4 separate regions of the Homo sapiens genome follow, and regions 1, 2 and 3 are each reported to be linked to region 4. The links are microRNA targets in miRTarBase. Many come from high-throughput screens and were not tested one by one. Region 4 holds a microRNA gene; each other region holds the end of a gene's coding sequence. Distances are between the middles of the regions.

Evidence for each region. The annotated mature microRNA hsa-miR-582-5p reads UUACAGUUGUUCAACCAGUUACU and lies in region 4 at 1,661-1,683, shown strand. An mRNA with a match to its seed (bases 2 to 7 or 8) in the 3' UTR can be bound and repressed. Matches are read on the target gene's strand: a 7mer-m8 pairs with bases 2 to 8, a 7mer-A1 pairs with bases 2 to 7 and ends in A, and an 8mer does both.
Region 1: the mRNA of ZNF350 is a reported target of hsa-miR-582-5p. Seed matches in the 3' UTR shown: 7mer-A1 at 5,996-6,002.
Region 2: the mRNA of DIXDC1 is a reported target of hsa-miR-582-5p. Seed matches in the 3' UTR shown: 8mer at 2,908-2,915.
Region 3: the mRNA of PGGT1B is a reported target of hsa-miR-582-5p. Seed matches in the 3' UTR shown: 7mer-m8 at 6,451-6,457, 7mer-m8 at 6,226-6,232, 7mer-m8 at 5,821-5,827 and 7mer-m8 at 4,989-4,995.

Annotation. Positions count from the first base shown.
Region 1 is chr19:51,958,509-51,966,533 of GRCh38, forward strand. It overlaps ZNF350 (zinc finger protein 350), which reads right to left. Exons shown (of 5, transcript NM_021632.4): 5 at 5,832-7,706. The coding sequence ends at 6,346. All of the region lies in intron 1 of ZNF350-AS1 (ZNF350 antisense RNA 1), which reads left to right. Among named protein-coding and RNA genes, the nearest start is that of ZNF350-AS1, 13 kb to the left of the region's middle.
Region 2 is chr11:112,016,743-112,024,767 of GRCh38, forward strand. It overlaps DIXDC1 (DIX domain containing 1), which reads left to right. Exons shown (of 20, transcript NM_001037954.4): 18 at 1-54; 19 at 1,035-1,143; 20 at 2,214-5,911. The coding sequence ends at 2,294. Among named protein-coding and RNA genes, the nearest start is that of DLAT, 4.7 kb to the right of the region's middle. RefSeq lists enhancers at 106-155, 176-225, 7,628-7,817.
Region 3 is chr5:115,205,907-115,213,931 of GRCh38, forward strand. It overlaps PGGT1B (protein geranylgeranyltransferase type I subunit beta), which reads right to left. Exons shown (of 9, transcript NM_005023.4): 9 at 1-6,677. The coding sequence ends at 6,496. Among named protein-coding and RNA genes, the nearest start is that of TRIM36, 40 kb to the left of the region's middle. RefSeq lists a silencer at 3,353-3,462.
Region 4 is chr5:59,700,349-59,705,348 of GRCh38, reverse strand. MIR582 (microRNA 582) reads left to right here and starts at 1,646; the gene lies at 1,646-1,743. All of the region lies in intron 1 of PDE4D (phosphodiesterase 4D), which reads left to right.

The DNA of each region.
Region 1 (8,025 bases), not on the chromosome of region 4:
GCTCACGTGTTTTCCTGCTGACCCTCTCCCCACCATTACCCTATAGTCCTGCCACATCCCCCTCACCGAGATTGTAAAGATAGTGATCAATAAATACTGAAGAAACTCAGAGACCAGTGCTGGCGTGGGTCCTCCATACGCTGAGTGCTGGTCCTCTGGGCCCACTGTTCTTTCTCTATACTTTGTCTCTGTGTCTTATTTCTTTTCTCAGTCTCTCATCCTACCTGACGAGAAACACCCACAGGTGTGGAGGGGCTGGCCCCCTTCAGCTGTACACAAGCAAACACCAGATTCTCCATTCTCAGGTTCCATTACTCTATGCTGTACATTTGATTCTTATTCCGCCCCTTCTGAGGTATCTTGTGGTCTTATACGCTACCAGGAATTTGCAAGTACTTTCCCTTCTTGTGAAGTGTTTGGCACACAGGAAAACATGAGGGAATATTAGTTACTATACTTGTCCTTTCATGAATCATTTGAAATGTCACTTCTTCAGACAGCATTCTGGGATGCCTCTCAGTTTTGTCTTATTTATAATAATGCAATCATTAAATATAAAATTGCAACTCTTAAGTGGGGCTAAGGAAGGGAACTATAGAAGGCATTCAATAGGGAAATAGAGGAAGCATCTCTCTTCCGGGAATAATTGAAGATCATTTTTCCTGATCATCATCATCTGCTCACTTAACTGCTGTTCAGAATGGACTGTGAGTTCCACAAAGGCAGAAGTCTATAATTTATTTTTAGCCCCAGTGCTCAGAACAAAAACTGGAACACAGCACTTCAATAATAAGACTATTGAACAAATAACCATATTTGGCTGACAGGCTACAGTCTTTCCTTCTTCACTTACCCTCAAGGTGCTGTGCTGCTGCTCAGTGATAATTAAACATAGAAAAGATGCAGCTGGGCGCGGTGCCTCACACCTGTAGTCCCAGCACTTTGGGAGGCCGAGGCGGTGTATCACGAGGTCAGGAGATAGAGACCATCCTGGCCAACATGGTGAAACCCCATCTCTATGAAAAATACAAAATAGTTGGCTGTGGTGGCACGTGCCTGTAGTCCCAGCTACTCAGGAGTCTGAGGCAGGAGAATCACTTGAACCTGGGAGGCGGAGGTTGCAGTGAGCTGAGATCGCACCACTGCACTCCAGCCTGGCAACAGAGCAAGACTCCGTCACAAACAAAACATAGAAAAGATGCAAAAGAGTGTATGCTGTATGCCACCTTTTGAAAAAAGGACAAATAAATAATATATACTTGTATTATAAAAAGAAACACTGGACGGATTCACAGTAAACATGTTTACCTGTAAAAGCTAGAAGGTCAGGGGAAAACTAGGATTGAGAACAGGATAAGATATTCACAAATGTGCTTTTTTGTACAGCTTTAAGTTTTGAATCGCATGACTATGTGACCTAGTCAAACTATTTCAGAGTAAAAATAAACAGCCAGTAGAGTCTCTATCGCCCTAGGAGTGGAGGCTGATCACAGGGTAATCTAAGGATGAGATCATAAAATAAAACAAACCCTCCAAGCAAAAAAAAAAAAAAAAAGTTTTAGATGCCAGAAAACATTTGAATCTACAGCCTGCCACTTGGCAGCTAAGTAGCTTGAAAGCTGTTGGAGCAACACTCCTTAATTCAACCAAATACTGTCTCAGCATCTGCGAGGTGCCTGATCTAGTGCCCAATGTTGGAGGTGAAATGATGAGGAAAAAACAGACCTGCTCTCTTGAAGGGGGCCAGCCCTTCCACCCCTGTGGATATTTCTCATCAGGTGGGATGAGAGACTGAGAAAAGAAAGAAGACACAGAGACAAAGTATAGAGAAAGAACAGTGGGCCCAGGGGACCGGCGCTCAGCATACAGAGGACCCACACCAGCACTGGTCTCTGAGTTCCCTCAGTATTTATTGATCACTATCTCTACCATCTCGGTGAGGGGGATATGGCAGGACTATAGGGTGATGGTGGGGAGAGGGTCAGCAGGAAAACATGTGAGCAAAGGACTCTGTGTCATAAATAAGTTTAAGGAAAGGTGCTGTGTGTGCCTTGTTGTGCACATAGGCCAGATTTATGTTTGACTTTACACAAACATCTCAGTGCAGTAAAGATCAGTATTGCCCCCAGCATGTCTCACCTCCGGCCATAAGGCGGTTTTCTCCTATCTCAGTAAACAAAATTTACGATTGGGTTTTACACTGAGACATTCCATTCCCAAGGACGAGCAGGAGACAGATGGCTTCCTCTTATCTCAACTGCAAAGAGGCCTTCCTGTTTTACTAATCCTCCAGGGCCCAAACCCTTTATGGGTGTCGGGCTGGGGGAGGGTCAAGTCTTTCCCTTCCCAAGAGGCCATATCTCAGGCTGTCTCAGTGGGGAGAAACCTTGGACAATACCCAGGCTTTCTAGGGCAGAGGTCCCTGTGGCCTTCCGCAGTGCATTGTGTCCCTGGGTACTCGAGACTGGGGAATGGTGATGACTTTTACCAAGCATACTGCCTGCAAACACATTTTAACAAAGCACATCCTGCACAGCCCTAAATCCATTAAACCTTGAGTCAACACAGCACATGTTTCTGTGAGCACAAGGTTGGGGCTAGGGTTACAGATTAACAGCATCTCAAGGCAGAAGAATTTCTTAGTACAGAACAAAATGGAGTTCCTTATGTCTACTTTCTTCATAGACACAGTAACAGTCTGATCTCTCTTTCTTTTCCCCACACTCTCTGCCTTCAGGAAGTTTAGAATCCAGATGGGGAATGCACATGGAAATCTACAAAATGTTAAACTGCAGTTCCCCTAAGTGCTAGGAAGAAGAGGAACACGATCCTATGGAAGGCCAGACTGGTGAGGGAAAGTTGCTCTGAATTAGTGATGTTTGAAGATCCTGAAGGAGGAAAAATGCAGAAAATGGGGGGAAAGAAAAGTTCAGGCAGAAGAAAGAGCATGCACAGAGGCCTGAAGGTGATGAAAGGATGTCAGCAGCATATGAGGGGCCAAAAGAGGGCCAGTGTGTCAGAACAGGGAGAGCAAGGTGGAGTATGGGAGAGGGAAGAAAGAACCGGAACATGCAGACTTGATGGCCATTTTAAGGATGTTTGCCATTGTCCAGACCCCAAGCAGAACAGTCATTGCAAGTTTCAAAGTTTAAAGCTAGAGAGTTTCATAATCACAGCTCTATTAAGCTTAAAAAGTATGCTATATGAGGAATCCTTGGCTCAGTGCGTGGCAACCTTTTTGTCATCAAGTCACAGTTTTGATTAAGTTCAGGCACACCTATACTCTTGATTCCTCCTCTTCCCCTCACTGGGACTAATAACATTACTTGTATTAATTGTGTTTCTTGCTAGACACTGTTTTAAGGACTTTACATTTACTTCTCACAACAAACCTGAGGCAGATATTTTAAAGCTAAAGTCAAGACCTTGGTAAATTAGTTGCTCTATGGCACATGGCTTGGGCATGGCAGGGCAGGATTCAAACTAAGCAGTGTGACTTCAGGATACATTCCAAATCACTATGCAGGACTGCCTCTTGGCCCAGGAGGGACTGAGGTCATGGGAGCAGATGAAGGGTGATCTTCAGTGAAACTATAAGGATCTTGGGTTTGGGAGCAGACATGATGTGTACCAAGCTTAGGTATGCACTGAGCCTCCTTCATCTGGGAGGTCAAGCTCTGAAAGGTACGTTAAGCAATTGCTCAGGGTAGGCCTGGCCAACTCATCCTTAGACCCTGATAGAGCATAAGCAACCTGACCTTACCATGGAAGGATGTGCAGATTCACAAAGGCCAGATGTGGATAGGGCCTGGTTGGTGGAGCGCCCATTTCTGATTCTTTGCTGGAGAGTATCTGCTCTGAATCTATCCCATTATAATGTGGGGGTAATGATGGGGCACTAATCCAGGATTTAGGGCAAAGATGCACAAAATTAGGTGTGCACCAGAAAGCCCTCATTACAAATGCAGAGTGCCAGGTTCCAGCCCCAGAGGATCTGGTTTAGGAAGTCTAGGGGTGACTCAGGGATTTGCATCTTTTTAAATTTCTGAGAGACTTGCGGCAAGAAGCTCACAGACAATTACAAATACTCCTGGAGTATTCTGTGCTTACAAATGCTGTAACAGGCTCTCCTCAGTACACTTAGGTCTTGGCTCAAATTACATCCAGAAAAGCCTTCCCTTGGAGAAAAAAAATAACATATTTTTAAAAGCCCCCATCACTACGTATGCATTAGTATCCACTACTAGTCTTTTTCTCCTTCCTAACATCGTACAATCTGTTTCTCTGCCTCACTCAATGGTAAAGTTTATAAAGGTTATTCCTTTGCCTGTATTGTTCACCGATCCATCCTACTGTATCTAAAACAGTGCCTTGCACAGTGATGATATATAAAAGTTACTTAGTGGCCAGGCGCAGTGGCTCATGCCTGTAATCCCAGCATTTGGGAGGCCGAAGTGGGTGAATCACGAGGTCAGGAGTTTGAGACCAGCCTGGCAAACATGGTGAAAGTCCATCTCTACTACAAATACAAAAAATTAGCTGGGCGTGGTGGCAGGCACCTGTAATCCCAGCTACTCGGGAGGCTAAGGCAGGAGAATCGCTTGATCCCGGGAGGCAAAGTTTGCAGTGAGCTGAGTTCGTGCCACTGCATTCCATCCTGGGCGACAGAGCAAGGCTCCATCTCAAAAAAAAGGTTACCTAGTAACCCAGGATTTCTGTTGAATTCTGACCTAGCCACAAGGCAAATTTCCATTTATTTTCCTATGAGCAGCACTTACTGTAACTTGGACAGTGTATCCATATGGGATGAAGGTTAAAAAACCAGATAAAGAAGGCCAAGAGACCTACTCCCAGAAAAGTGAGAATGATGAAGATAAATCATGTCTCAAAAAAAAAAAAAAGAAAAGAAAAATCACATCTCAGTTCAGCAGGTCACAGAGAAGCTGGGATCTCTGAAATGGTAACCCTAGCGGGTGATAGGTCTTATGGACAAATAAAAGCGTCATCTCTAAGACGTCCCAAAAGAAACCCACCTCCTCCCATCTGTTACAGTCTCATCCATTCTCAGAGACTAAGATTTTCCTCCTCCTTTGTGTTCTACTTATTCTAAGAGTCCTTTTCCTTTTCTGCTCTGCCCCTTTTATATTTGGCTAAGTCTTTCTAATCACACAAAAGTTGTGAGTGACAATTCTATTCTTTACAACTGTCATTCCCTTCAATGACAAAATACGCTTCTCTTTCCAAATCATTCTCTCTCCAAATCAATACATAATTAGTTTTTGTTTTTCTATGTGTTGGGAAATATTAGATCATGCAAAGCAGCCTCTCCAGCATAACTTTCTGGGATGTTGGAAATAATGACAAAGAGTCCTCATTGTCTGAAAGTTCTGTTCACTCTGCTGTCCAGTTTAGTAGCCTCTACTCACATATACAGCTCTTGAGCAGTGAGGGAACTGAATTTTTAAATTTTGTGTTCAGTTTCTTTAATTCTAAAATTTAAGTAGCTACAAAACTTAGCAGGGAATTTGTAATCTCTTGGAGAGATAAGACACGGGCAAAAACAAACAAACAAAAAGCCCTCCTTTTTGTACTAAGGTGCTTAAGTACCATTAACAGCAGTCCTTCTGCTACTCCTTGAACAATAAATTATCGCGTCCCCTGGACACAGTTACTCCATGTCCATTTCACCTAATGTAGATATTTGCACCGCCTGACTAGATTGCCTGAGTGTAATGATACCACTTAAAATTAACCCCACAAACTCTCCAGGAGACCACAAACTTTTTCTTCTTTGACCTCAGCTCCTGGAACAGGACAAGGTACAAAGGAAATAATTTTAAAATATTTGTTTAATGAAACAAATTGACTAGTTTCACAGATCCCTCTGCATAATACAAAGTTCTGAAAGTTTATGGTCCTGGTTTTCAATTAATCCTCCACACTGGCACTGGTCTAAGGAAACTGAATTGACACATATGTGTCCCACATTCCACCATTACAGTATTAGCCCTTTCCCACCAACTGCCCCTTATGAAGCTTTTCAGTCACTGCAACACTCCCGACACCAATTATCTCATCTGTTTTAAAAATTCACAGTACTTCATTTCCTCCACTTAAAAGTACTTGGGCTTCCTTTACTCATTTAATTGACACAGTCGAGCAATTGCTGTGTATGTGCTTAGGTTAACATCAAATTTGCCTGTGTATCACAGCATACATTTTAATAGGATGAGTTTATCAGGCTATCTCAGCCTTATACATGTTCTCTCAGTGTATGCTTTTCGGCCACATAATGAACTACAAATTTTTGCTCAACCCTTTTCCACATAGATCTGAGTTTTCTTCCTATGGGTTTTCTGTAACATAAAATAAGACATAATTGATCACGGAAGGCACAACCACATTCACTGCATTCACAAGGTTTCTGTCCTGTGCAAATCCTCTGTTATCTCCTGAGGCTGCACATCTGACCACTGGCTGTCCCACAAGGACTACGTTCCTGTTTGCGAGGAGGCCGCTGATGTTTAATGATGTCTGAGGGGCCACAGAAGGCACTTGTGTAGTCGCCCCGTTAGCAGAGTTTTTCTCCTGCATGACATCACTGGTGTGTAATGAGCTGTGCCTCTCTGCAGGAGGATTTTCCACCTTGGCTGCCTCTTGTTTCTCCCTTGTGTGTATTCTCTTATGCTTAACCAGACACGACATATACGCAAACGCTTTCCCACACTCGTTACAGCCATAGGGTCTCTCTCCTGTATGAGTCCTTTGATGGACAATGAGCTTTTGCTTTGTGCTAAAGGCTTTCCCACATTCACTACATTCAAAGGGTTTCTCTCCTGTGTGAATTCTTTGATGTTTAATGAGACCTGATTTCTGAGAACAGGATTTTCCACATTCACTGCACACAAAGGGCGTCTTTCCTGTGTGAAATCTCTGATGTGCTATGAGACACGTCTTCTGAATGAAGCCTTTTCCACATTCATTGCATATATAAGGTTTCTCACCTGTATGAATTCGCTGGTGTACAATGAGATTTCCTTTCTGGATGAAGCCTTTTCCACATTCACTGCATATATAGGGTTTCTCTCCGGTATGTGTTTTCTGATGTATGTTGAGCCGTGATTTCTTGAGAAAGGCTTTGCCACATTCAGGGCATTCATAAGGTTTTTCTCCTGTATGAGTTCGCTGATGTTCAGTAAGCATGAACTTTCTGGAGAAGGCTTTCTCACATAGACTACATCTGTGGGGTTTCTCTCCTGTATGCATTACCTGGTGATCAGTTAGCCAAGACTTCTTGATGAAGGCTTTCCCACATTCACTGCACACATGATGCTTCTCTAATTTTCGTGTTTTCTGATGCTTGGGACTGATGAATTGGGACTTAGTGCTGATGAGTTTTTGACTTGCAGGGAATTTAATTGCAGTATGAAGTCGTTCATGGTTAGCATGAAGAAAGGAGTCCCCATTTCCAGTAAACTCAACAGAGTTCTTTATTTCATAGCCTTTGCTCTGGTTAACTAAAGTTAAATTGGATTTCAAACTTTTTCCACGTAAGTCAAATATATCATGATTTTGCCCTAACAGAAACTGACTTTTGCTGCAATGAACAATATTTTCAAATGCATCATGTTCATGACATGGTTTCCTTCTGTTCACCAGGCTTTCACTCTGCAAGCGCTCCAGCACATGATCAACTTTCCATATGTCTAGAAAGAAAAGAACAAAGATTTCTATCATTTAGATTTGGGGTAAAAGTTTGTTGTGGTTTTTTTGTTTTTTTTGTTTTTTTTTTTAAGATGGAGTTTTACTCCGTTGTCCAGGCTGGAGTGCAATGCTGCGATCTCAGCTCACTGCAACCTCTGCTTCCCGGGTTCAAGGGATTCTCCTGCCTCAGCCTCCCAAGTTGCTGGGATTACAGGTGCCTGCTACCATGCCCGGCTAATTTTTGTAGTTTTACTACAGACGGGGTCTCACCATGTTGGCCAGGCTGGTCTCGAACTCCTGACCTCAGGTGAGCCATTGTGC
Region 2 (8,025 bases), not on the chromosome of region 4:
GCTCTATTTCACTGACCGGTCACTTACGCCCTTCATGGTCAATATACCAAAGAGGTGAGATTCTGGGATCATTGTATTTCACTGTAAAGAAGGAAAGGAAGGCAGAACCTCATTAGTTACTGCCCACATGAGCAGCTGAAAGGTGTTTGAGAAGCAGTATAGTGAGATCTCACTATAGTGAGATAAGCCAGAGAGACAGATTCTAGTTTCAGCTTTGCCACTATTCAGTGGTATTATAAAGGACAAGTCATGATCTACTACTAGATACAGGTACAATAATAGTACTTCCAATCCTGATAACTATGCAAATATGGCTCTGCATTTGGGAAAATCTTTTTTTTTTTTTTTAAGTGTTCAAAATAGCTCCTGCTGATACAATGGATTGCAGCCTGGCACTCACTCCAGGACTATGACTAATTGATCTTTGTTACTATTCAATGACTGCAGCTAATCCCTATTGAGAAATTATGTCAAAAACCTTCCAGAAAGTTAATGTGCTTCCTTTTAAGGGAAATGGTTTTGAAATAGAAATATTTAAACTCTGCAACCAACTATTGAGAGAGGTTATAGGATTTTTCTTACTTAGTCTGCTTATTTAGTCTGGGTTAGAAGCCAGCTTCCTAAAGATAGAGGGATAAAGATCATGATACTTGATTTGATTCTACCATCCTAGAGAATTGGGATATTGTAGCAAAGAAGAAAATCAAGAGAACTTTGATATATTTATGGTTATTCAACAAATTTTATTTCAGGGACTTTATATCTTATTTCCAGAGAAAAGTGATTTGGCTTCTGAAGCAATAAGTCAATTTTAAATTCTCACATCACCCCATATTTAATACTGTTTTCATTCCCTAGTGATGACTGGTTCTCCAGCCTCTGCTGTTTTAGTCATCTGGGTTATCGGGGCAGTGACCTAACAAGGGGCTATTTCTGCTTATTGACTTTGGCAGGGGGCTGTGTTTAAAGTTAACATCTTATCTTTCCAGCTATTGATCAACAGTCTATTTTAGTGCTCTCTCCTTGTGTTGCAGGTTGGAGGAGGTGACGTTAAAGGATTTTAAAGCAGCTATTGATCGGGAAGGAAATCACCGGTATCACTTCAAAGCACTGGATCCTGAGTTTGGCACTGTCAAAGAGGAGGTAAAGAATCTGTGGGGAGTCTGTATGGTATTATTGGTCCTTTCTGAACCCTGAAGCCTCCTGTTCAAGCACTAGTGTCCAGAAGTACATGAGTTCCCTGACTAGGTCAGAAGAATTTGCCAGAGCCTCAGACCATGGTCTGATTACTCTAGACAAGTGGTCATAGAATAGTCCAAGATGCTGATAGGTTCTTTAGTTGTAGGACTTCATCATTTGACTGAGAACTTGGATATAATTTTTATTTTAAATTATTTTGTTAGGGAAAATAAAGAACCTAAGACAATAAATAATTTTCCATCTGCAGCCAAATCTTAGAAAACTTCTTGCTTCCTATGTAGAGCAAAATAAACACGCATGGATATATGGAACTGTGTATTTCTCATAATGAAATCAAGGAACTTCTAGGGAGTTATGTATGCTTATGCCCAACTCCTTGAGTAAGTATTTTCTTAGCCTACGCGTCTCTTTATAATCCATTTGTCAAAGATAGACTTTTGGGGGAATACAGTTCTGGGTTATATAGTATTACAAGTGGATTCACTGCAGTTACAGAATGAAAAAAGTTATTATAGAGAAAGTAAAATTTTATTTTGTAAACATTTCCTCAGTGAAATGTTTTAGTAACCCTGTTTTATTAGTGGCTTAGGAAATGAGTTGAATGAATTAATGAAAATAACTGCATCTGAGAAATGTGTTAAAATGAGTCTTTTTTCCCCACCCTTTCTTTACATTGCCTGGTAACTAAATTTTCCACTTTCTCATTTTTAAAATACTTAACACTACATCTTTCCTCTAAGAAGCCCAAAGTACTTTGTGATTGGTAATTTATTAATTCTTACAAATCTCTATGAGCAAAGTAGTATCAGGCATTTTTTAAAACCATTTCATAGATGTGGATCTAAGAAAAAAATAAAATATCAGTTGCAGTTCTAGGGACAAGACCAAAAGGACATAGACTCTTAACTCAAGGCTTTCTTCTACATGGTTGAGGTCTTATTTTTATTAGCAGCAATTGTTTAGTGAATCAGATTCCCTGTTTTTTCACTGTGGCTTTTTGTTTTTTTCTCTAGATTTTCCATGATGATGATGCCATCCCTGGATGGGAAGGGAAAATTGTAGCTTGGGTGGAAGAAGACCATGGAGAGAATTAATGCCAAGTATCAGATTGAGGGCTTATGGAACCTGGTCACTCCCTGGCTGCTTCACTCAGGAAAGGGAACTAAAACCAGAATACACTAAGAAGTTTCTAGTTTGTGTGCCAAAACAGAAGCTTCTCCAAGCATGATGGCCACAGGTCAGTCCTCTTTCTGTGCCTGGCATATCTGGTACTTAAAATTCTGTCCAAATGTAGACCATGGGTTCATCTGGAGTTCCTTGTCCGTGGGAACACAGTGTTCTATTCTACTCTGAGGACAACAAACCGAAGGCCTTAAACGATGGGGATGGATGATCCCGCCTCTGTAGGGGCATGGCTGCTATTATCTGGAAATTAGGAATTGGATGCATCATTCCTGTGTGTTACAGTATTATTTTAATTGGCCTCAATGGTTGCAGCAATCAGAGTCCCAGCGTTTGTACTCACAGACAAGGCAAAGGTACCAGCTTTTCTGTTTCTTTGAACCTACTGCAAACCAAGAATAACTCATGAGGTGGTACCAAAGATGAAAGCCCAGACTTCAGTAATCTTTTGAACCAGACGTGGATGGTGCTGAATTGTTGCTTGGATGGAAAAAGGGCTGCCCATGTTGTGCTACACTATGCTAAAACTGTAATTTAGTAAGACCTTGGGCTGCCTCTTCTGTCTTAACTGGTTCTGCAGCTTGTCCTTTTGCCCACATAGGGCCTATTTCATGTACTGTTAGTTTTCTCTGGGGACTCTTTAACTTTAGAGCCATTTCTTTTTCTTCAAACTGATGAACTTTTGTTTGAAAGGCATAAGGAGTGAAAAGCTCCTTGAAAATCCAGGCGGGTATGGAAAGGTGCTGCTACCCATATCTTTTTGACTTTCTTTGTTTCATGACTTTAACTCATGGCATCTCCTTTGTAGTAAAAGGAGACAGACCATTAATTTCAGCATTTCTTTGTGATTTATAAGTACTGAGCATGAAGTACTTGTCTGCCCCTCATTTCAAGGCCAGAGTTATTTTCTATTTATGTATTAGTCTAGGCTGATCTTTTAGGGCACAATAGAAACCATGGGGCGTGGAGCATGAGTTGTGAATGGCAGGGATCATTCTGGGTAAAAAAAACCTAGAATCATTTCTGATGTGCAACATTGTCAAGTGAAGAAGCTAACAGTTCAACTACCGAGATTATTTGATAACCTGGGTTTTCTCATTCATCCATCAAGCACCATCAACCAGTCAGCCATTATTATTTATATATGTATTACCAAAAGCAGTCTATCTGCCTGTGACCTCCAATGTACACTGCCAAACACAAGAGTAGGACACATCTGTTCTGGGTTCTTGACCTATCTGTCTCCAATTCATCTCCCCTTTTCAGCCATTTCAACAAACTACTCTTTGGAGCTCTGAGATGACATCTTGTTGTTTTATATAGATGTATCTTTTAAAAATAGTTCACGTTTGGAGAATTCTTTTGTACTCATTTGCTTTTTGTCTGAGAACCATGTCTATTTTTATAACTGGAGTGTGAGTTCTGTATCTTCTCACATTCTGTATACTGTATCCATTTTCTAGAGAACCCAGTAGCTTTTATACAGTCTCTTCTTACCACCCCTTGTGGTTTCAGAACAAGCTTTATTTTATTACGAGTATATTAATGACAACTAATTCCTGTTCCAATTCTACCTGTTTTAGTTGTGAAGGTAGTTTTGTGTAATCCAGTTGATTGCTCCTCTGGCAGAGAGAAGGAGCTCAAAAGATACTTGATGTCTTTCATGTAAGTTTACCTGGTCTTTTCCTATTGAAGAATTTTTCATCAGAAACGACTGGGAAAGTTTGGGAAAGTCAGCAAAAGAAAGAATGCATTTCGAAAGCAAACAGAAGAAAAAAGTATATTCTCACAGTTTTTCCCCAGGAAGTCTGGAGAAAAAGTCCTCATGTCACCAATTTCTCTGTTGCATGAATTTTAGTGTTTTGCTATAAGACAGCATGAGGGCTATCAGGCCAAAATTCATTATTGTATTTCCAATACAGTTTGTCTTGAATGTCTGTCTCTTAAACCAGTTTTTACTTGTCAGTTTTCTCTCAGCAAACAGTCTTACTATTATGTGGAATTTAACTTTTCAGAGAAAATTTCCAAAGTCCTCTACCTTATTTGGCTTTTATCTGTGTCTTTTGGAAAAGGAGCTGCATGGCCTCAGTGCCTCCATAAAAAGCTTAAGTTGAGTTCATGGGAGAACATTAAGATCGTTTTTTTTCCCTTTTAGCTCGGTAATCTCATGTACCACAGGTAATGACCAAGCATCTCTGCTAGAGGATGTAACTCTCATAACTCCTGTGTAAAATGAGGATCCTGTTGGTGATCCTCATTCCAGTTTCCAAAGCGAGAGGAGCCTTCTGAGCAGAAGTATGCAAGACTGATTCTGTTTGGAACAGTTTCCTATTTGGCTGCATTCTAGGAGGCCTCCTGACTTATTCATAGTATTGTCGCCTGGTGGCATTGGTGTGGGGTAGCTTGTCCTGCTACTTGCTAAAGTTCTCTTTCTTTGAGAAAACTGAGGAACCAGAATGCTTAGAGTTCATAAAATAATCTCTAAACCATGTTAGGTTAAAACAAAATGACCATCTCACAAAAACGAGTTTAGTTGAATGCTCAATTCCTTACAAAATCTTCATTTAAGGCTGAGTGTGGTGGCTCATGCCTGTAATTCCAGCACTTTGGGAGGCCGAGGCAGGAAGACTGCTTGAGCCCAGGAGTTCAAGACCAGCCTGGGCAACGTAGGAAGACTCCGTCTCTACATAGAAATTTTATTATAAAAGTAGCTGGGGATGGTGGCACACACCTGTAGTCCCAGCTACTCAGGAGGTTGAGGTGGGAAGATTGCTTGAGCCCAGGAGTTTGAGGTTGCAGTGAGCTGATCATGCCACTGCACTCTAGCCTAGGCTACAGAGCAGGACCCCATCTCCAAAAAAAAAAAAAAAAAAGTCATTTAAAAACTGAAGAATGTTCTCTTCTTGCTCAGTTCCCTAAATTAGCTGGGGGGATTGGGATACTTTACAATTTTTACATTTTTAAATTTGAAGAATTTGTTTTAAACTTACTTGGTAATGGCACTTCTACTTACTGACCAACTTTTCAGCTCTTTTTGACCAGGATGGTTGCAAATTAGGGAAAATATCTTTATACTATACATCCAATTCAAGAGGACTTTAATTACTTAAAAGCATTTAGGTCATAATTAAAATTATTTTCACTGTTTCCATAAAATAAGCATTATGATTGCACACTCCTTCTACTGTCTGAATTTATGTAAGAGGTATAGCTTGCTTAAAATACATATATATGTAAAGTTATATTTTCTTAGAAACATGGATGTTTACAGCCATTGCTTTCAAAGAGATTATTACTGTGTATTCTCCCTGTTTTACAATATGTTTTCATGAAGACTATGTTACACCAGAGGCTTCTGATTATCAAAGTGATAACCAGTTTTAACTGCCGGTATGTACCAGATTTGTGAACTAATTTAAAAAACCACAAACTATGAATAAAATGGGGTTTGCAAACTAAATATCATTAATGATTTTCACTTGCGTTTACTGATGAGATTAATCAATAAAGCCATTTACATTTAGTGAAAGCAAATTTCCTCAAGTGATCTCCCTGGTAGCATGTTTACTCACTATGTGGAGTGGAGATAAGAATTACTTTATTGCTACAGATATTTTACAATTAGTATTTCTATGTAAGCACATAGGCTATTATCAAGGACAATTTATTTAGCACTTATTTTGAAATTATATGTAAACATGCAAACAAATAAGAACCCAAGAGTATAAACTCTATGACAAAAGTCAGTATGCAAGCATTAAGAACTCTTTCAGAAATGTGTATTTAAAATGACCAGAATTCCCAGATCATTTGAAAGCTGCCTCTTAAATGCCTCTTATCAATTCATCTTAAATGTTTGCTATATTAAATTCTTTATCCCTGAGTGCCTTCATTTGACTTCCAATTACGTATTTTCAACTATTAATTGGCTATCCCATTATGTTAAAATTAAATATGTACATAACTCAAAATCTTTCACTACCAACTAATTTCTGTTTCTCTCAATATCAGTGATATCACCATTCTCTTAAGTATCTCTATTTCAAACCTTTGAGTCTTGAGTCTCCTTTTCCATAATTTCCTTTATCCAGTCTGTTTAGTGGAATTCAAGCTTGTTCTCTCAGGACTGATTTGAGAAACCTAAGCATTCCTAGCCCACCTCTGGGGTAAGCTCGCCATCTCTGGACTGTTTGAGCTATGCATTCCTATAATTTAACTACACTTAAGTCAAAAGTATATTCAAGACACAAACTCGCTATTCTTTGAAAAATGCAAAACAGGGTTTAAGCAAGCATACCTAAGTGCACAACAGATCCGGAAGATCACCTCATACTTTATACCAAAGTCTAATTTAGATCCAGTTATTAAGTTCAAATGCAGCAAAAGCAGCAAGATATTTTAGCCAACTCAAAAACATTTTTATAATAATTTATAAGTCCTGGGCGGGCATGGTGGCTCGCGCCTGTAATCTCAGCACTTTGGGAGGCCGAGGCAGGTGGATCACCTGAAGTCAGGAGTTTGAGACCAGCATGACTAACATGGTGAAACCCCGTATCTACTAAAAACACAAAATTAGCTGGGCATGGTGGCACGTGCCTGTAATCCCAGCACTCGGGAGGCTGAGGCAGGAGAATCGCTTGAACCTGGGAGGTGGAGGTTGCAGTGAGCCGGGATCATGCCACTGCACTCCAGCCTGGGCGACAGAGTGAGACTCCATCCCCAAATAATAGTAATAAGTCCTTTCAGTAATTACAATTATTCTTTCATTGCTTCTTCCAATTGTTAATTCATAAGTTGTACATAATTGTAACAATATAATTGCTCTCTTCATATTATTTAAAATATGCCTTTTCATTCAATCTAGAAATTTTATATTTCTCAATTATATTGCTTACATATTATTCTGATAGACAGCTGTACCTGCTTAAACATTCCAATTTAAGTAGGCATGAAATAGTACATCCAATCTGTTTTAGTTTTCCAAATTAATTGTTAGCAAGATTAGCCCCCATTTTTTTTTTTTTTTAACAGATGGGAGTCTCATTATGTTGCCCAGGCTGGTCTCAAACTCTTGGGCTCAAGTGATTCCCCCACCTCAGCCTCTCAAGCATTGCTGGGACTACAGGCATGCACCACCGCTCCTGGCTAAAATCTTGTTTTAAGTTTCTTCCCTCCAACTTCCTCTTGCGTTCTTGGTGTTCTCTAACCATCTCTACAGGGGGGAGGTGGTGATACACAGCACATGCTTCCTCCTTATCTAATGTCACCTTCAGTTCAGAAACGATATGTTTTCTAATTAAAAGACAACTTTACAAGAGAAGCGTGCCTAACAAAATGTGTAGATGACTTTTTATTCATTGATTCAAAAGACATACATTCAGCCCCCGCTATTTACTGGATATTAAGCTCTGGGGCTACATGGAAGGACCACGCAGACACTCTTCATGCCTTCAACGGCTTACAGTTAAGTTTTTCAAACATTTGAAACATAACGAAGCTTTTGGTTACTTAAAAGAATTCTATGGTATTAGGGAGCAACACCTGTTTTGTAAACCTATATCTTCATACAGGGAATATGCTTAATCTTGCTACAGTATACATGAATGCGGGAATGTATCTTCCTCTGGGCTGCCTTTCGTTACC
Region 3 (8,025 bases), 56 Mb from region 4:
TTTTGTAGTTGTGAAAAATAAGGCACTGATTAATCAGTGCCTCATTTGCCATTAAAATGGTAAAAAGTGCAATTACTTATGCACTGACCTAATATGTTTATGCAACGTGATACTATGCAACTATTAAAGTATGGCTATTGAAAGGCATTCATAATACATTGTTGAATGAAAAAAAACCATGGAATATTTAGTACCTCAGATCTTTATGTATAGTATACATACATATATCTATTTGTATAAGTATATATTGTATTGGGATGAGTAATACTTAAATGTTCAGATATTTAAAGAATATTCTCTATTTCTATATCTCTATATACAGAGATTAAAGGTCTGAAAGATGTATGCAACAGTGGTGTTTACCTCCAGGAAGTATAGGCTGTGGGTATAGTATAGGCTGGGATGGGGAGAGAACTATCATTTTTCTTTAAATTATAAAACTAAATGACCATTTTAAAAAAAGGTTCAAAGTGAAATAAGCTATATATTTTTTAAAATTGTAAATATCTGAATAATTAAGCACCAGTAATCTCAATAGCACTTACTTAAAAGTTCATTTTCTCACTAACTTGAGATGCTGCCTTTACTGTATTCTAAATGCCACTGAGTCTATTTCTGGAATTCCTCTTCTGTTCCATTGGACTTCCTATTTATGTGCCAATACAAAACTTTTCATTTATTCAACATTACGAATGCCTTCCAATATCCATACTTTAACAGTTGCATAGTATTGAGTTACATAAATGTATCATAATGTGTCTTATTTTTCACAATTACAAAAATGTGGCTGTGAGATCCTTGAAAATGTATCATTGCCTATTTGCATGTTTCTTTATGCTAAATCTATAGATAGAGAGTATCTGGGCCAAAAAGTGTGCACACTTTAAAAAATTCTGATAGCTTCTGCCATGGAGGATTTAGAGTATGTTTTAGTGTCGGATATGGCTGGTCCCCTCTAATTCTTTTCAGTTTCCATGGTTATTCTAGTATGTTCTCTCAAATAACAATATAATTTTTATTGGAATGGCACTGAATTTATAAATGAACCTAAGTGGGGAAAGACATGTTTTGATGTTGTCTATCTAAGAATATCATGTATCTTTCCATTTGGTGGAATCTACATTTTTGCCTCTCAAGAGTTTTTTTAGTTTTCCTCATACAGATTTTAGATGTGTCTTAAATTTACACATTAAGTTTTCTTTTTACTTTTGCTATCACAAAGGTGGTCTTCTCTTCAAGTATCTTCTAACTAGTTTAGGTTTGCATATACATACATATATATATATATATATATATATATAGTCTTGTTACTCTTTTTAGTAAACATTTTTACTGAGCTATAATTATACATACAGAAAAGTGCACAAATCATATACAGCTTGATAAATATTCATAAGGTGAATGCACCTACGTAACCAGCACCTAGATCATGAAACAGAACATTACCAGCACCGCAGAGTCTCCCTTGTACCCTCTTTCAGTCCTACTGAGTTAAAGCCAGTTGAAAAATAATGTATACTATATGGTTCCACTCATATAAAATTCAAAAACAGACAAAACTAATTGATGGTAATTTTGACAGCACTTACCTTTGGGAAGAGAGGTAGTGACTGAAAGAGGGTGCTGATTTCTGACACCATACATAGATGCTGTCTGTTTTGAACTTCACCGAAATGGAATCAAAGTATGCACTTGTGTCTGGTGAAGCCTACTGATATTTTTATGTAAATTGTATTTAATAGCTACTTTACTAAGTTCTTTTATTGTTTAGTTTTTCAACAAGTTCCTTTGGGCTTTCTAGATACATATTCATATCTGCAAATAGTTTTACCTCTTCCTTTCCAATTCACGTCTTTATTTTGTCTAACTTCATTGGCTATAACTCTCAACACATTGTTAAGTAGCAGAGGAGTTAGTGGGCATGTCTTGTTCCTGACTTCAGCTGGAAAGTCTCCTTTGCTTTGAAATTTAAGATGCTGGCTTTTAGGTAGAGGTACAATGTTAATAGATTATTCATCAATTTCTACTTAGTATAGTTAACATAAGTGAGTGCTCAATTCTATCATGTCTTTTCTGCAAAGATGAAGATATTTTTTAACTCTTAATATGAATAGTAACAGATTATCTAGTATTGAACTACCCTTGCATTCTTACAATAAACCCAACTTAGTCATGATTACCTTTTGAAAGTGCTGTTGGATTGTTTGCTAATGTTATCATTAAAACTTTTTATTAATATTCATGAGATTGCTCTATATTTTCTTTTTGGTACCATCTTTGTCAGGTTTTTGAATCAATGCTATTACATTCATTTTATAAAATGAATTCAGGAGTTTTTCTTTATTTGTTTTTTTTCTTTTTTTGGCACTTTGAGGTTCAAGATTCTTTTCCTAGTCTCTGCAATTGTTTAAGCAAGAATGGGATTATTTAATCTTAAAAGGTTTGGTAGAAATCCCCTTGAAACAATCTGGGCTTGATGCTTCTTTTGGTAAGGGGTACTTTTAACTATTTGTTTCTTCTACGGTAATTGGTTTGTTGTGACTTTATCTACCTAGAGTAAATTTTGGCAATTTGCATTTTTCTCAAAATAGTTTTTGAATTTATTGTGTAAAATTGCTCAAAATAGTCAATTTAAACAAATTTCCTGTTTTACTATTTCCCCCTTGTCATTTAAATTTTTGTATTTGTGCTTCCTCCTTTTTTTCTTAAATAGGTTAGCTGGTAGTTTATCTGACTCAACTCCCCGCACTACCCATCACCAACTTGGATTTATTATTGCCTCTATTGTTTTGGTTTTCTACTAGTAATTCTTTTTTGCTTTTATTAATTCCTTCCTTCTGCTTTATTTTGCTTTTTACTCCAAGTGTTTGGTACTTGGTTAATTTTCCCCTTTTCCTACTTTTATTGATAACTGTACTAATTAATATAAATTTCCTGTCATATTTGCATTTTATTTTTTGGCAAATATTAGGTTTTTATCTGTCTTGTGGTCATGTCCTTCCGGTGTGCTTTCATTGTCTGTGAGGATGTTGATCTATTTATTCTCTTATTTCTTATACTAACTTTGACTGGAGTTGGACTGTAATCCTGGCTCACTTACTCTTTTTTTCCCCTTAACTGAAATGAGTTTTTCTGTACTTTTAGGAGGAAGGAGTGGCTCTAGGATGACTTCACAGCCTTAGAGCTCCCATTTTCACAGTGATTTAAAAGAATATATATATATATGAAAATACACATATATAATGTCTCTGTGTCTTGGCCTTTCTTCCCAATACTTATCTAGATCTTCTTTCCTTTGTCCTATTTTACCCATCCTGCCCATTTGGATTCTAATTCTAGAAGTTTGTCCTCAGTGCTGGGCTTTGTCTCATAAGCTTCAAGAGGTACACAGCGTAAAACCCAGACAGCTCTAATGCAATCAGCAGACCTTATCATATTGCTTTAACATTCATCTGCAAATGAGATTCTGTAGTCACTTCCCAGTTTCAGTGTCTGTTCTTAGATTGGCCCGCTGCACTTTGTAGTTGAGAAACTGTGGGCAGTGTTGTAGTTCTCCAATTTGCAGAGCTGTCAGAAACCAGCTGCCTTCCTTCTACTTCCTCCCACAGATACTGAAACTATGTGGTTCAGTGGTTTGTCCTCACTTAGTTGTATTTTGAAGTTCATAGAGATACCTTGTCATCTAGCGTTGTAATAGTGTCTGTGGCTATCCTAGTTGCTCTGTATTCTTATGGGGAGATTAGAAAACAACACTGTTGTCATCATTTTCCCTGAGGTTAAACTGTTAAGACCTCTTTCTGTTGTAGAAGAGAGGTTTTAATTACAAAAATAATTTTATGATCATTATAAAGAACCTATAATTTGAAATTTGCTGTATTCCAGGTACTATCCTAAGTGCTTTATCTGTATTATCTCATTTAATCCTAAACCCTGTGTGTTAGGTTTTACCCTTATTTTATCCACGGCAGAGTTAGGGTCCAAGATCATGCTGCTGAACTGGCAAATCTGGGATTTAAACCCAGGTCATCTGATTCCAGAGCACCTCCTCATTAACTGTCTCTCAAAAATGATCAGGTCCAACAGTTTTCAAATTATATACCACTGTCAGCAAGATTTCTATATGAATTTAGATTAAATATAAATAACTAAAGATCTAATAACACATATATATTATAGATCAAATCTAAAAACACTGAAATGATAAACAGGTTAAATTAGGCCATATGATCTGATTAATCTCATTTGTACACAGATGCTCAAAATAAAGCTCCTCCTCCTACCTTCTAAAAAAAAAATGCCACAAAATTAGGGGGCGGGAAGGAGACAAGTATAGAGTAGGTAACAGAGCTTTTTGAGATTTCGGACTTCGTATTTTCCCTCATTACATCGCTCCTGTTAAGGAATAAAGTGTATATGTGAAATATTGCTTATAATTTATTTAATCGATAAATGCTTTTCTTGTAAATAACTATTTAGAAAAGTTAGAAATAGTTTCTCCACAATTCACACTGGGCTGCTATTTTCTGGTCAATTCAGTTGCTGTGGAATGTGAACATTTACTAGTCCATAAAGTTTCACAAGAAAGTCTCCCACAAGTGTATCAATTAGAAGCATACTAAAATTTATAATCTTATGGTATTAAATTATCAGGAGTTAGAAAATATTTAGCCTTATGAAATACTTTTAGATTGGAATTTTTCTCTAACATTTATGAATAAAATCACTGTTACTACCTTTATTGCCTTCTAACCTTTCTTGGTGATACAGAAAAAACAATTTGGGCTTTTTATATAGTCCTAAAGCCATTATATATATGCTACTTTAACTTCCAATGTCTAAGAGATGACTTAGTTTGAGATATGGATGTCTTAATCTGCCAGGATTTAAATAGTAGCAACTGGAATAACCCATAGACGGATAACATCTGTTATTAAGCTTACTTTTTCCCCCACCATCAGAAGATTTATTTTATTTCTAATTAAAAAACATACAGTTGGCAAACTCAGGTTTAAAACTAAGCATGCCAATAATAAATCAATCATTTCTCCAAGTACACAGTGTTTCCCTTGGGAAGGACTGTTATTTCACAACATTTTTTTCCCTCTGATTTAGAAAAAAAGATAACATTTAAAGTATTACAATGCCTAAACAGTGATACCAGTAATCCAGTTTTTATACTGATACTTGTATTTCAACATTTATTATCACCAAGACTAACTTAAAGCCAACTCCTTTAGTGAAGAGATTTCTTTCCCCATTTCAGTACTAGACGCAATAGTTCTGAATGTCACTGAGCAAGTAACGGATATGAGTTATTGATAAATTAATTACTAATGAAGAGTTTTTATACTACCTCCTTTATAATTAGCTAGTTCATAGACTTAAAACAAAACAATGAACAAAAACAAAACCCTATTTCTTACCCTCTAAATGGTCGCATTTCCCTTTCACTTACCTGAAAATATGAGAATAAAAATGACCATGTATTGAGTTACACCACTGAATCTGTTTGAATGGTTCTGTTTTTGTATTTTTTACTTATTTAATTTGAAAAAAATTAGAAAAGTATTAGTTTGAAATTAGAGCAGCTAACACACTGGGGGCAATAAATTAAAAACTTCAAATGGCTAAAAATGAAAACACAAAGTATCTTTCCTTCTAGATAAAAAAGATTGTTTTCTTCCTAGAAAGCAAAAAAAAAAAAAAAAAAAAAAAGGCAACTAATGATTTGAGAATAAAATCAAACATAACTGGTATTCACCACAGCAATGTCTAGATAAATGACCCACATAGCACAAAACTTTCTCATTCACAATCACATACAGTTAAGTTGCTTTTCCCTCAGTTACATAATAGTTGTCTTCAAACAATCTCCTTTTAGAAAACTATCACATTAGTTAAACCTATTTATTCTTACTATGAAGTTATTAACTTCATTTATATAGGCCACACAGGTTTAATTGGCACACTTTACTTAAGAATAAGACAAAATAAGTCACTCTTCTTTAAAAAAAATTATGGTCATCTGTTTTCAAAGAATAATCCCAGATACTTAATTAATTAAAGCAAATTTTCTACGATCAGCAGTGAGCTTTTTAAATGATCACTAAGTGTTCACCTGAAGATTATCAATGCTATATGAAGTGTAAACTTGAAAATTTGTGTCCATTTTATAATAAGATACAATTTGCACTGAAGAGTTTTTAAAAAGATAACCTACACACATACAGTTAATTTGCCTCAAACAACTTCTTAGAAATACAGTATAAACATTTAAGAACCACGACAAAGTTGTGGTTCAAACTTCAACAAAGATTTTCTTGAAACCCAGTATAAAGATTACTGGCTCAAGACCATATCCCAAAGTGAAATCAGCAGGAGATTTGATTGTAAGACTCTACCTTTTAAAAAAAGAGCACACTTGGTTATACATGGCTTTTAAACTTGAGCTACAGTTATGCTACAAATCCCCCCACCCTCCCAATCTAAAATCAGTCATGTGGAGATATGTACATTCTCTGAGCATTGTTTAGAGTCCTTGGTTTTCCAGCTTTGATGGAGATCTAGAAGGCGTTCAGAAGTCCGTGTGCTTACATTCAGAGCAGGATGAACTTTACAAATTCCACTTTCCTCCATTAGTGACAGGCCACAGATCCCAAAGTATGCATGCAAAGCATCTGAAAAGAAGGCATTTAAAACATCATAATAGGCATTCTTACTTGTACATTCTACAGAATATTTTAGCCACATATTTACCAGCCCATCACTCCATTAAAAGTAAGTTTAGAGAAATGCTAATATAGTTTTAAAAATATTTGCTTTCTCAAAGCCTCAAACACCAATTAAAAAAAAAACTCAGATGATCAAAATAAAATATTTTATTCATGAAAATATCATTAACAAAGGAAAACAGTTTCCAGCTGAAGAGCTGATACTGTCCATAACCTCTGTGATTAAAAGACAGGAGTAGCAGCAGTCATATGTAAGACTTCTCACTTTGGGGAGTTTCCCCTCTTGCTTACTAGAGAACATGAAAACGAGTAGCTTCAATGCTATATCATTAAGTTTTTTTTTCTTTAAAACGAAAACAAAACTCTGAATCTAAGTTGCAATATCCCTCGCTCCACGTTTTACCTCTGAAAGTTCCTAAACCATATGCAGTACTATCCTAACATTGTGTTAAATAAAAGGAGCTTATGCAAAAATAATCCATTCTGGAATGCTGTGCCATATTTAATCCTCCTATTTAGGGTAATGTCAGTCATTGTAAAAATATCTGATCTGACAATAAAAACAAACTCACATTCTATTTGGTTGAAATAATATGAGTGCTCATACCATGACAATTCTGCACTGGCTCACTAGTTTCCCATCTTTCAGGGGGCAGCGATCCTCTTCTATTAAAGTGGCCAATGAAATCACATGGCCATTCCTGCCTAGGAGTCTTATGTAGACTTCTGAAGAGCTCAGAGCTTTGCAGTTATAGGAACATTAAAAAGACAGTTTTGTACCAGTCAAAATTTTTTTCTATTTTTGAATTGGCCGACATTTATGGCCTTAAGAGCTATTAAAGTTCAAAACAGGCTGGGTGTGGTGGCTCACACCTGTAATCCCAGCACTTTGGGAGGCCGAGAAGGGCATATTCCTTGAGCCACAGGAGTTCGATACCAGCCTGGGCAATACGGTGAAGCTCCATCTCTACAAAAAATACAAAAATTACCAGGTATGGTGGCGTGCGCCTGTAGTTCCGGCTACTCGGGAGGCTGAGGTGGGAGGCTCACCTGAGCCTAGGGAGGTTGAGGCTGCAGTGAGGCATGATTATATCACTGCACTCTAGCCTGGGCAAAATAATGAAACCCTGTCTCAAAACAACAACAACAAAAAGTTCAACACATCTTACCACATCAAACTTTGTCAAAAGAGTTAAAGAAAAAGCTTTACTTACAACAGTATCACTTATTTTTCAAAACAGAAATGACAAATAGCTGTGCTTACTCAATGCCATTGTGAAAATGTTATTTAACT
Region 4 (5,000 bases):
GGAAGGTGACAAGAAAAGTCCTGTTTGTGTGTAATTGACATGAAAAATGGTAGGCTTTTAACTCAAGGAGGCTCCAGACAACAGTTTGGTTATTAAGGAAGGGGAGGACCTAGGGGAACAATTGTTTCTGGCCTCTCTTCTTCTCAGGCCTGGAACAATCTTTCATTTACTATATTCTTGCCACAAGAGCACAGTCAATATTAAATTCCAAAAAAAGAAAAATCCCTCACAGAAACAGCTGTGTTCAATATACAGCCAGTTTACTCTGGCGAATTGCTAGACATGGAACAGTTTTCATTTCTTTTTGTGTTTATCCCTGATAGTTGTCTTGTAAAATCTGCCTTTTGTAAATAAGGGAAGGCTGGTTTTAAACAGCTTTGACTAATATTGGTAGTTGGAGTATTCAGTATTACAGAGTTTTAGAGAACTAAAATAAACCTGATGGAAACACACACATATTTCAAAGGAAACATTTTAAGGTGTTCTGGTTCCATTTTTTCCATTTTGTATGTAAGTTGGATTATGATACTTTTATGTCTACATTGTCTCTTAGTCAAAAATGTGAGAGACGCCATTCAAGTCTAGACTTGGACCCTACTGAATGCCTTGTTCATGGACACCACACAATCTCGATGTAAATGTTTATTGCTGATCTGTACAAAAAGGGGAAAAGTAGTTTTTTGAACAACAGAAAATACCAGTTAATCTCACTGGATTCAGGAATTATAGCAAAGCAATCCAATAAGTGGATTCTCTGAGAGTAGGAACTCAAGTGTGTTATCTCAGTTTTTATCCAGTTTCCAGCACAATGCTGGCACCATTTAAATTCTCAGTCAATGCTGGAGAATTGAAAAAGAATCCTCAAAATTTGGATGACAAAATGACAAAGGTGTCCCCTGATACAGAAATCTGTCCATGGCAGAAAGATTAGTGATTTGAGATATGGTGTCATCATTGTAGATGATGGTGTCCCATTAAGCATGTTTTCACTAATTACAATAAATGTTGAAAGAAGGAGTTTCACCTAGTATCCTTACTAATATCAGGGAATGGCCTGGGCTTTGGGGAGATGAGAGTCCTCTGCTTTCAGTTTAATAAAGTAGGATATTTGTGTTTTTGTTTATATTGTTAAATACGACGGGTTAGCTTGTCACCTACATAATATTGTGTGGCATAAATAAAGGTGAATTCCCAAATATGTGCTCCATAGTGTTGACAATGAGTAAATGTTCATTCTAATAATTGTAAGGGTTACCTCCCTCGCACTCCTTGAAATATCTTTTTATTCAAATTTTTCGAGCTGGAGGTCATGTGTTACATTTCCTGTTGTGTAACATGGCCTCCCTCTCTTTCTCTGTCTCACTTTCTCACTTTCTCCCTCTTTCTTTTACTCTCTCTGCCTCTACCTCTGACTCCTTCTCCTTCTTCCCAGCTTTGCATCAGAGCCATGTAACTGACATTTTCTTGGTTCCCTCAGGACCTGTCATAATAGCAGGCAAATATTAGATGATGATTCAATGTTTAATGAATTTTTCTTGAATGTATGTATGTTGCTTCAAGTCATTCATGCACACATTGAAGAGGACAGACAGAGCCCTGCTGAACACCACTAGCAAATCTCTCTCTAGTAGACCACAACAAGTCAATCTGTGCTCTTTGATTACAGTTGTTCAACCAGTTACTAATCTAACTAATTGTAACTGGTTGAACAACTGAACCCAAAGGGTGCAAAGTAGAAACATTTCATTGTGAAGTCGGCTGGGGACAAAGAAAACACCACCAGAACCCCCTTCAATATGCAAAGGGAAAATTCCTTCTCAAGTACAAGCTACATGGTGCCTTTTTGAATTATCATCAATTTGTAATGCTGTATCAATACATATGTATTATCTGTTCTTTTGGTAAGGGTTGTTTGAAGTATAAGGTACTTCCTCCATTAAGGTGATACTAACCACATGTTAATTATTGTCTGAAAGTCACCAAGGATATGAATAATAAAAAGTTTTAAAAATAAGACCTGTTTCTTTTATTGATAGTTGTACCTCAAGGCTGAAGTGAGGTTTGCAATGTAAGTTGTAAAATGTGATGTGAAATAGACAATTCTTTGTAGTTTATATAAGGCAATATATCCATGTGCAATTATGGTCAAAAACAGCAGACTTTTAAGTGATTATTCTAAAGTTATTTTTTTCCAAAATAACTTTATTACTCTTGATATCATACCATATTCACAAAACATTCTGGTAAAGCTATTGCTCAGTGTGTTGTCCCAGTGAGACTCAGGGAACATTTCTATGTGACGCTTTAGGATTGAAGACAGTTCCACGTTTTCTGAGTAATTCCAAACTGTGTAAGAGATTATGTTCCCTTTGCATATTGGCTGCTAAGAAGCTCACTTTTTCACTTATGATACTTGGATGCATTTTGGCTTTTTGGGTTTTTGTTTTTTGGTCTAATTTTTTTTTTTTTTTTTTTTTTTGAGACAGGGTCTCACTCTGTTGCCCAGGCTGGAGTGCAGTGGCACCATCATGGCTCACTGCAACCTTGACCTCTCCTGGCTCAGGTGATCCTCCCACCTCAGCCTCTCAAGTAGCTGGAATTACAGGCATGTGCCACAACACCCAGCTAATTTTTGTATTTTTTGTAGAGATGAGGTTTCGCCATGTTGCCCAGGCTGGTCACAAATTCCTGGACTCAAGCCATCTTCCTGCCTTGGCCTCCCAAAGTGCGGGCATTACAGGTATTAGAGGTAGGAGCTACTGCATCTGGCCATGGGAAACATTTTGAATGATAACTTTGTTTGTTTGTTGTCTGTTGAGCAGGCTGGAGTGCAGTTGCATGATCACGGCTCACTGAACTCTTTCCTTTAATTTTTTTATTCTCTCAGCACGATTATAATTTATTTTAAAAGTAGGGAATAATTGGCCAGGCGCAGTGGCTCACACCTGTAATCCCAGCACTTTGGGAGGCCGAGGCAGGCAGATCACAAGGTCAGGAGATCGAGACCATCCTGGCTAATATGGTGTGAAACCCCGTCTCTACTAAAAAATACAAAAAATTAGCCGGGTGTGGTGGTGGGCACCTGTAGTCCCAGCTGCTTGAGAGGCTGAGGCAGGAGAATGACGTGAACCTGGGAGGGGGAGCTTGCAGTGAGCCCAGATTGTGCCATTGCACTCCAGCCTGGGCGACAGAGTGAGACTTCATCTCAAAAAAAGAAAAGCAGGGAATAATTAGTAAGTGCCTAACTAATCAAAAATTGTTTCCAGGTGATGTTGCTGTTGATGTATGAAAACCTCTTTCACCTAGCTTCCCTCTTCATTCTTTTCTGTCATATTTCTATTGACCAGTGCTTTCTTGGCCCTTGGAAATGTGATTAACTTTTGCCATGACCTCTATGTTAGTGCCACACCTGACACCTTTATGCCACTCTCTGCCTCCAGAACTCTGTGTCCATCTTATATGTTTTTACCTTCTGCTGGGCCTCAGGTCTGGATGCAAAGCTGTAGAGGAATTGAGCTGTTTTTCACAAGGGATCCAAGAACACATAGCATGTGTGAACTGTACTAAAGCTTTGAGAAGTTGTGAAGAAGATTCACATCAACTATGCACCACACAGCCTTCTTGTCTTGCTGGTACCATCTCCTCACCTCTGTGTTGCTCCTCTTGGAGTCTTCACCTTCCACAACCAGCACTTCTATTCTCACTGTCTGAGTGTGACTTTCCATAATTGTGAAACTCCTTGGGCTTATCCCTCACACTCATTCTTGAATTCTAAGGAATGGCATTTTCTCCATTGTGCTTACATTTGCTTTTCAGTATTAATTGTTCTAGAGAAAAGCATTCATTCACTCACTCACTCATTCACTCATTTAACAAAACCTGTATGGGTATCTACAGTACTATGTTCTAGGTATACTGAAGACACTAACATAAATAATACAAATAATAACCTTTTCTCAGGGAATTTAGATTAAAGTAGTTCAAATTGGAGCAGGGGAAGCAAATATTTACGTAGATTATCAGGGAAAATGTGTAGTGAGTGCCGTGATTAGCACTATGCAGAAGATTTTATGGGAGTGGCAAAAAGCAGAACCTAACCTTTTCTGGGGTGAAAAGTGTGACCTAAACTGAGTCTTAAAGAATGAATGTAGGGTGGAGAGAGGAATAGGAAGAGCATTTCAGGGAGAGAGGAATAGCAGGAACAGAGACACTGATGCAAGGAATCCCATGGTATTTGTGATGAAGGGATGATTTAGTAGTTCAGTGACAAGACATGAGCCTGGAGATAAATAAGGTTTAGGTTCTGGGGACCTTGTGAGCCAGGTTAAGGACTTTGGGTTCATCCTCAAACCATGAAGCATTCCAAGCAATTATGTGACAAGATCAGATTCTAGGGGCTGAATGGAGAATAAATATGTAAGTGGCAAGATTGAAGGCTGGGAATGTAAAAGGTGGCTCCTGCTGTGGCTTGGGCAAAACATCACATAGGCTTGAGCTAGCTTTGTGATTCTACGGGATTGAGAGGAGAATGCTAATTTCATAAATGTTTAGTGGATATGATTGGCATGTGATCTGAATGCAACTGGAGAAGGGGACCAGTCATTTACTGAGTTGATATTGGTAATTGATAAATAAGACCAAAGAAGGTGAGGTTTGGGGATAGGCAGTGTAAATTTTGGAAGTAATAAGGGGATTGAGGTTCTGTCCATGGCATTGGTGGGGAAATCTAGCATGTAAATACATGTAAATAGATAAGTAAATATGCCTATACATTTATATAAGATATCTATACACTTATTCTCCTTCTTTGTTCATTTATTAGGTGTGAAATCTACGTGATTTTTTTCTCCCATATTATTTTTGGTATTCAATAAATGTGAATCATGAAGAGATAGCTGTTTTATTTAATCTCTGCAAAGTCACATTCTTACCCATTTTGATTGTAATAAAAGGCCTATGTCGTTATTTAATTTTTTAACCTTTGTGGCATGATTTATAGA